Regions from separate parts of the Homo sapiens genome. Here region 2 is reported to be linked to region 1. Evidence: microRNA targets listed by miRTarBase, many of them from high-throughput screens and not tested one by one. Region 1 holds a microRNA gene; the other region holds the end of a gene's coding sequence.

What was found. The annotated mature microRNA hsa-miR-128-3p reads UCACAGUGAACCGGUCUCUUU and lies in region 1 at 2,378-2,398, opposite strand. An mRNA with a match to its seed (bases 2 to 7 or 8) in the 3' UTR can be bound and repressed. Matches are read on the target gene's strand: a 7mer-m8 pairs with bases 2 to 8, a 7mer-A1 pairs with bases 2 to 7 and ends in A, and an 8mer does both.
Region 2: miRTarBase lists SLC1A4 as a target of hsa-miR-128-3p. Seed matches in the 3' UTR shown: 7mer-m8 at 928-934.

What each region holds. Positions count from the first base shown.
Region 1 is chr3:35,742,527-35,746,924 of GRCh38, reverse strand. MIR128-2 (microRNA 128-2) reads right to left here and starts at 2,449; the gene lies at 2,366-2,449. It overlaps ARPP21 (cAMP regulated phosphoprotein 21), which reads right to left. Exons shown (of 21, transcript NM_001385562.1): 19 at 2,960-3,086.
Region 2 is chr2:65,020,828-65,025,151 of GRCh38, forward strand. SLC1A4 (solute carrier family 1 member 4) reads left to right here. Exons shown (of 8, transcript NM_003038.5): 8 at 85-3,038. The coding sequence ends at 319. Among named protein-coding and RNA genes, the nearest start is that of LINC02576, 7.7 kb to the right of the region's middle.

The DNA of each region.
Region 1 (4,398 bases):
GGAACTCAGGTGTCCTATTTAATCAACAGTATAGTGTCCAGTTCACTTTACAAAAATTCACTGTGTAGAGTTTTAAGTCTTAGGAAAGATGTAGTAACTGACAGAGATTTCAATTCTGGCAAGAATGTAGGAGAAGGAAGAGAGGCTTTTTACTGCAATTAAATAAAGATTAAGAACAGCGCCAAGAAGCAAATTCAGATTAAAATCTCATTTGACTTTAACTGACATAATTCTGTCTCACTCTAATTTTAACCACGTGATAGCTGAGGATGTTATGACATAATCTGGTGTCATTATCAGATGAAGATGGAAAAGGGTCAGATCCCAAGACACACAGCTGCAGGAGGCAGGAGGAAGAACAAGTTAAAACATGACTGTGGGAGGGTGACATGCTGATAGTAGCCCATAGTTTGACTTAAAGATGGAGAAGTCTTATTTTCTAGTTCTTCCAGAAAATATAACTTATACAGTTATCTGAAGAGGCTCTTTCCTCTATGAGATAGTCCATCCACATAGAGTTGCTCTCACAAATGACTGCCATGACCATTTGGAAAGTTTCTGTTAGTCTCCCTAGGCTCAACAAAAGGACGCCCAGCTGTAGGACCCAGAGCCTCTGTGCACTCTCAAAGAGCCACTGTGTGGTCTGGTTACTTGGATTTTATTAGCAGAAGTGATTCTCTGTAAGGTCAGGGAACACCATCTGCTTTCCCAAATACTAGGTACATTCATCACTGTGGTGGAAACTGTGTTGGGATTTTAGGCCAGGTATCCAGTGTGGTGGTCACAAAAACTAAGAGCCCAAAGGTCTCAGTGTGCATGTGTATACTAATGCCATCATTTCTGGGGACAATACTGTTTATGATCATTTCACTTTTCTCACTTCCTCACCCTGTACAGGCCACATTAACTGGCACTCACTTCCTTGACACCCTAGGCACTGCCTTGCTTCTATATTTAGCTTGATGCTGCTCTAGAGTGCACTCTTCTCATTACAGTGTCATTATCTTACCTTGGGAGGGTCATTTTTGCGGTGATGTGGGAGAATGTGACAAACCAAAGCTACCAGGTTGCCATGGAATGTAGGTGGAGCCAGTGAGGTCTCTAACTGAATGGGAGAGGGTGTTTCCACATCCCTAAATTCTCCCATTGTGCTTTATTAAAGAGTAAAAAATGCCTCATATATTGTCTCTTGTTTTGACATCCACTAACAAAGTTAGTGAAGAGGAGAAAAAGCAATGGAGAAGTCAGTGGGGGAGGCCTAAACTTTTTTGAAATCTAATTCTGTTGCCCAGTTATCATATTCATCTAACTTTCTCATCCCCTCACATAGATCTAGAGTTTATGGGTTTAGTGGATTGCAGCATGTTTTGTAACTGCGTTTCTTTGTATGATGACACTCTACCACAAGACTGAAATAATCTCTTTAAAAATTGCCACACAATGGCACCAAACCTAATAAAAATCATTATAATTAGATATCTGCATCTTTTTTCTTCTAAAGGCATTAGTAACCAAGTAGAAAACTTGCACATAGCCTCTAAACCAAGATCCTCAAGATTGTAAATTAACCCTTTAATTAACGTTAGCATAAAATAAGATAGTCCAGAATGCAAGCAACACATTTCTACAGCATGTATCTAAACTGATAGCACCGTTACCACCAAAATGATAAAGGTAATAACGTTTTCCACAAATTAGAGAAAATATTGCCAAGTGATTTTTTAAAAATAAATAGTTATTTGAAACCCTTTAGTGTTCTCAAAACACTGTAAAAGTCTAAAGTCAATTCAGAGGTCAAATATATTCTTCCCCAAACTAATACAGTGCTGAAACAAGACAAAATCTGGCTGGAAGATATAGGTTTCTCTAATTCTTCTCCCACAGACTTTAAATAGGCCATGAGATAAACCAAAGAACATGTAACCATCCACAATACGGGGGAATTTAATTCTTTCTCCAATCTGACAGGATGCTAGCAGTGTCAGCATTGGTATTCTTAGGATGTCTGTGATTGGTGCTAATCCTTGGCAAGAACTGCACTTTTCTCATAGGTTATAAAAATGGTACATATTGTGTATATATTACATACATGTATCTGTATACATTCCATATGCATAACATAGATTCAGTGCAGAAATCAGATCACGGAGCAGGCATCTATGAGTAGCAGCAAGGAGCACGTGCTCTTTACATGACCTACTTACAGAAGGCAGAGTCTCCCCGTCAGGCAGTCTTCAGCATGACAATTAGCAGTTTTTCCTGCAGTTTGGTCAGCAGGAATGACACAAACCTCTCCCTAGCACAAGCCACTCAGCCCTGTCGGGTTCGTGCTGCTCTTTGGATAACGGCATTCCATTAGGAGTGTGACACAGTAGGGAAAGAGACCGGTTCACTGTGAGACCTGCTACTCACTCTCGTACAGTGTATCGGCCCCCCTTCCCACTGCACAGTGGCTGCCGGGCTCTGGGCAGGAGGCATGTGGCCATCATGAAAGTGAACCATGGAGTCAGAGTTCCACCGAGACACGCTGGATTGTCAATAGCCTTCTTCTAAAGGCAGTATCTTTTAGCACGATATTGAAACAACCTAATTTGGTTCCCTAGCCTTAAGAACAGAGGAAGCACTCTCTTCAAATTGAAAAGAAAAAAAAAATTAAAAGAAGGTATGAACTAGAAAGGTACGGACATGGTTGACTTTCTGCTTTAACAGAAGAAGGATCAAAAAATAATTTATGGAGACTGTTTAACATGCATGCCAGGGATGCTAGTCTGACATATGCTTCACCTTCTTGTACCTACTACTTTTCCACACAGAGTCAATCAAATGCTTTGTTATCTTCTCTGGGTAGAGAAAATGTGCTGGTTTAAATTGCCAAGCTTGGACACTCATCCAAAGAGTACAAGATTCACCAGCAAAAATAACTGGGTTGAGAAGCAAATGGGAAACAGATTCCAAGTACCTGCTTGCTGTGCTGCCTGTGGCATCTGTTGACTCCTCTGAGCGTTGTACTGAACCGGGGCCATGGGCCGGTACTGTTGCGTGGTTGAGGTAGGGTACTGACCAGATGGGTAATAATATACAGGCATCTGTGGAAGAAAGGAGGAAGAAAGCAGAGAATGAAAATGTAGATAATGTAAATTTTTAAACTTAAAATATGCTTTCGTCTTATAATTGTGGTAGGTTGTGAAGATGGCCACCGCAAACTTCTCCCATGCCTATGTGTATGTGCATGCTACTTCTCCCGTAAAGAGGCAAAATCCATTTCCCAAACTTAAATCTGAGCTGGTTCTGTGACTTTCTTTTACCAACGCCATGAGGCAGAAATGATGTCTGAGTCTTTCAAGTCTGATCCTAAAGAAGACTTGCAGCTTCCACGTCTGTAGGCGGGGAACCCAGCCAAGAGATAAAGAAGTCTAGACTATTCTGCTGCAGAAAAAGGCCATGTGGGGAACACAGGTACCCCCAATTGACTGGTTACCCTCCAGTTCCAGGCATGTAAGTGTAGCCCTAGTCAAGCCACCCCAGCCATATGGAGCAGAGATGAGCCATCTGTGATAAATCCTGCTCAATTGCTGACCTAGTCGTGATCATACAATGGTTGTTTTAAAACAAGACTTTTGTGTTTTTTAGATGAAACAAGAGAGAGTGAAACAGTTATCATCAACAACGAAAACCTACATTTTAAATATTATATCTAACTTGAATTGCTTTTCTAATGGAAACAGGGGTGAAACATGAAAACTGCTGATCTGTAGCCTAAAAGGAGCAGAGAATGCAATCATGAAATATGGTAGTCTATCAAAGCACATTGCAGAATGATTGGTACACACCACTATTCAAAAAAGTATGTTCAATCTAAAAGGGAAAATATGATAAAAATGTTGTTTATGCTACCTTCTTAACTTTCTTATGACTGAGAATGAATAAAATTATTCTGATTATTTGATTATGATCCAAATCAAATGTTTCCTGATCTGATAGACTTCTTTGCCTGCCTCAGTTCATTTATATTAAGGTCACTTTCTTACTGATCTTAGTTAATTATTTTCTATCTCTGGGCTTCTGAGTTTTCGCCTATCATATTCTCTAAAATAACAACTGAAGTACCCTAGTAGACCGCCTACAAACATTATATACATAGGATAAAATTACAAGTCAATTATTTGAGAACTGTGATTTTCATGGTTATTTTGTTTTCTGATTTGCTCAGGTCTAATAGGAAACACTTTTCTATTTCAATATTGCTGTTGAAACATATGTAACATATTTTGCTGCCTGAGGATAAAGTGGGAACAAAATATAACTTAATCTGTGTGAACCTGTAGCTCTGCAATTTCATGGAATCATGATGAATTATAACTGTGGCTACATAACATATGGATATTCAAGGGCAAGAGG
Region 2 (4,324 bases), not on the chromosome of region 1:
CTTTCCTTCGGCATCCAGGCTGCCTGTGACAGGACCCGATCGCCCAGCAGTAGATATAATAGCTGCCTCTTCTTTTCCCACCAGGGACCGGACCACCACGGTGGTGAATGTGGAAGGGGATGCCCTGGGTGCAGGCATTCTCCACCACCTGAATCAGAAGGCAACAAAGAAAGGCGAGCAGGAACTTGCTGAGGTGAAAGTGGAAGCCATCCCCAACTGCAAGTCTGAGGAGGAGACATCGCCCCTGGTGACACACCAGAACCCCGCTGGCCCCGTGGCCAGTGCCCCAGAACTGGAATCCAAGGAGTCGGTTCTGTGATGGGGCTGGGCTTTGGGCTTGCCTGCCAGCAGTGATGTCCCACCCTGTTCACCCAGCCGCCAGTCATGGACACAGGGCACTGCCCTTGCCAACTTTTACCCTCCCAAGCAATGCTTTGGCCCAGTCGCTGGCCTGAGGCTTACCTCTCGGCACTGGCATTGGGCTCCCCAGCCGGAACTGGTTACCAAGGACAAGGACACTCTGACATTCGGCTTGATCCATGTCCAGGTGCAACTGTGTGTACACCAGGGATCTGTTTGGAAACAACCCCTTGAGCTGCCAGGCTCAAGAAATCATGGACTCACAGGGTCCTGTGTGGTTACATCTTGGAAAAAATGCAGATGTATTTCACTCTCCCCGGTCAGCTCTGCATCAGGTGTTTTCTGAGCAAACCAAGGGGGTTTATAGTCATCTGTCGCATTGCCTCGAGTTGCAGTAATTGAAAAAATGCTCAAATTCTTAGCCATGGCTGGCCTTTGCTGAGCTGGGACTCAGGTGTTTAAAGAGTTTGTGCTATAGCTAGGTGTGGATAGCTTCTGATCCCTGGGTTCTGGGAGACTGCAGGTGCCGCACATTGTCAAGTTAGAAATACTCCAGGTGGGTGTTAGCACTGTGGTGGTCTCTGGTCCACAGCCTTAGGTAAACAACTTAGATTCTGAGGTCAAAGAAAAAAGGAGAGGGAATGCAGCCTTGTGGGGGAGAAGCGGGGCAGAGGGTTCTCTAATCTAATCAGGACAGGACAGGTTTCACATACAATTGTCCCAGTTCGCATCCCAGCCCTGGGGCACTTTTCTGCTTCCTTCCAGAGGCCTGGGCCTCTGATAACACTTTGGCTTTTTCTCCATTCACGCTGATTTGGCAAAAGGCCAGAGATGGGCCTCCTTCCCTGGGGAGGTGTGATGTAGTTATCACATTCAGGACCCTTGTTGATTTATCATCTATTATTTGAATTCAACTGGACACTCTGTAAAATGCTGCACTGCAGCAAAAACAAAACCACCACCACCCCAGAGAAAACCATGTACTAATTGGAGTGGGGTACCCCCATTCACAGGTTCCCAGGTCCCCTGGCTTTGGCTGATTTCAAAATATAGAGCCCTTTCTTGCCAGTACATCCAAGTTTAAAATTATCAGCGAAATGGTCCATGTTTTTCCAATTACCTGCTGACACGGTTCTAAGCTAAGTGAAGGGGAAGATCTGAGAGCGTGCTGTTTGTGGCTGTTGATGCATATTCGTGATGTAACAGGTCCTGGGGCCTCACTTTACCCCATTTGTAAAATGGGGCTAATGTCACCTGCCTCTTACCTACCTCAGAGGGATTTGGTGAAGCAAACTGTTAATCTTCGAAAACGACCATTTCACTTCTTGGATATCAAGTGCTAACCCAGTATGTTCTTCTTTTTTATGTAAGGGACAGCTTTCTCCACAGAGTCCTTTCTGCTGGTGAGGACAGCATTTCTGAGCAGGGCTTTGTTCTCTATGTGCATTAGGACTTTTATCATGCCCTTGTTCTGTGTGTAGTTACTTGACAGCATCAAATGCCGCCTCTTCCTAATGTCCTTCAAGTTTTCATGAACTAGCAACCCCACCTTCCACCATGGTTCTGGGCGCCTGATTTTGCTGTGACTCCCAGACCCAGCCACTGTTTCTGCCACCCTGTAACAGGCCATTAAAGCTCCCCAGTGTTCAGCCTCCTTCACTCCCTTGTTTTCCCTGTTGCTATGTGTCACCTGGGCCCTACAGACAGGGGCACACGCTTATGGATGTGTGTACCATTGAGATGAGAATGGGTAGATGGAACGGAGACCATCAAGCCACACCCCCTTCTTAAAACTGGGGACATGAGCCTGAGCAGAAAGGGTGAAGAAGAGCCATGGGACACAGAGTTGACCCAGCCAGGGGGAAAGCCCAGCTCTCTTTAAACCAGCTAAGCCATTCCAGTCTCCTGTGAAGCCAAAAGGGACCAGGAACCGTGCAAAGGAAACTGGAAACTTTTCCCCGCTGGGTAGAGCATGTTGCTGATACTCTTCTGTTTTCAAGGGAAACAATCACATTGTTTGATTCCAAATGGTAAATGAACACTCACTATTCTTCAGGCTTCAGTAAATCTTTTTTTCTTCCTTCATATATATATACACAACACACACACACATATGTATATCTATACACACATGTGTGTTGTGTATATGCATGTGTGTGTGTGCGTGTGTGTATAGTTTTAGCTCCAAGCCAAGCAAGTTTGTGTTTGGATAGAGGGGAACTTAACTATTAACTACAAGTTGTATGTCTGTGGTATCTTGATTTTCCCATTTCTAAAGATGAATTTCACAAAGCCATAAAGCGTGAAATTAGAGCTGGACTTAAGACTCATTGGCCGACCATCCTGTGTCCTGGCCTGGCCCTGCAGTAAGAAGCGTGTCTGGGTCTGGAGAAGGGTGCTTCCGAGAGTGTGCAGGTGGCCCTTCCCCTTGGAGGCGAGAAGAGAGAATGTGCTGTCTATCTTCCTGGTTTTCAGTCCACAGAGTCGGTAGACCAGGGGTTACGTGACTGGGGAAAATCTCACATCTCCTTGTCTGAAAACATTTCCCCTGCTGTTCTCTTTCTAACATGTTGTGGTAAATCTGTTCAGATACTGCTCATCTGACTGTTTTGTACATGTGACAATTGCCTTAAAACCTAGCACAGTCCTCAGAAATGAATACCGTGTTTCCACTGGAATCTGCAGTTCCTTTATTCCCTTCTTGTGTGTTGAAGCGGCACTTGCTGATGGAGGAGCTGTTGCTCTTCTAGGAGATGGGCTTTGGGTGACTAAAGGGATTTGTTTTCCTTGCTCCATTCATCAGGCACGAGCCCCTAAGTCAGGGCAGGCATGCTCAGGGGGCAGTGCTACCGCCGGAGCTGCTGTCGCTGATCCTTTTGCGGCCACCTGCTTGCAACTGGGAAGCGTCAAGCTGCTCAGGGGCTTCCCACTCCACACCAGCAGGGCTCTTGTAAAAAGTGTGTGGTTTTGCCACATACCTCCATAAAGTTATGTCTTGTCAGAACGACTAGGTCAACAGGCCCTAACTGAGCATCTACTGTAAGGCAAGCATTAAGTAGGAACAACAGGAAGAAAGCCCCAGGCCCTAGAATTCTGGGAAAGTCCCTGAAAGAGAGCAGTTGTCCATGCCTCTACTATGGCACCACCACACCTCGCCCATGCTTTTATATAATCTTGTTTTCAATGACACCACATTCCAGCAACATTAGGGAATCTAGACACCTCTTATAATAGGAATTATCCTGCAAACAGAGTGGAAACCTCTGAAGAAACAGATCCCCTGTCTGACCTGAACATTTCCAGCTCTTCATATAATACAGGAACTGGTTTTCATTTCTGGGCAATCCCCAAAGGATGAGGAGAGAGTTCACACCGATCAGGGGCCTGATGGGGCCTGCTAGGAGTAACGATTTGGATTCTTACCCTGGAGTGTGGTTGCCTTGACTCTCTGTTGTGGAGAGTGTTTGGAGGTTGGGATTAGTACTTGATGAGTCAGTTTTCTGATGTAACCAGACCAAGAGGAGCAAATCTACACTCAAACCATCTCTTCCCTGGGGATCAGAAGGAGCGCTGATCTGATGAGCTACTTGAACCTGCTCACGGGAACTGTAAATTGTGTCTGAATAGCACAGGCGATGTAGCAGGGAGGACCATGGGCTGTCTGGGTTCCACTCCCAGCTCTGCTGCTTGCTTGCTGCATGACCCTGGGCATGATAACCTCTCCATGGCTTAGTCTCATATTTAAAATTGGGAGACCGAGTGCAGTGGCTCACACCATCATCCCAGCACTTTGGGAGGCCAAGGCAGGAGGATTGCTTGAGGCCAAGAGTTTGAGACCAGCCTGGGCAGCAAAACAAGACCCTGTCACTATAAAAAAAAATTTAAAAATTAGCTGTGCATAAAAAATTAGCTGCACACCTATAGTCCCAACTACTCCAGAGGTTGGGGTAGGAGGATCACTTGA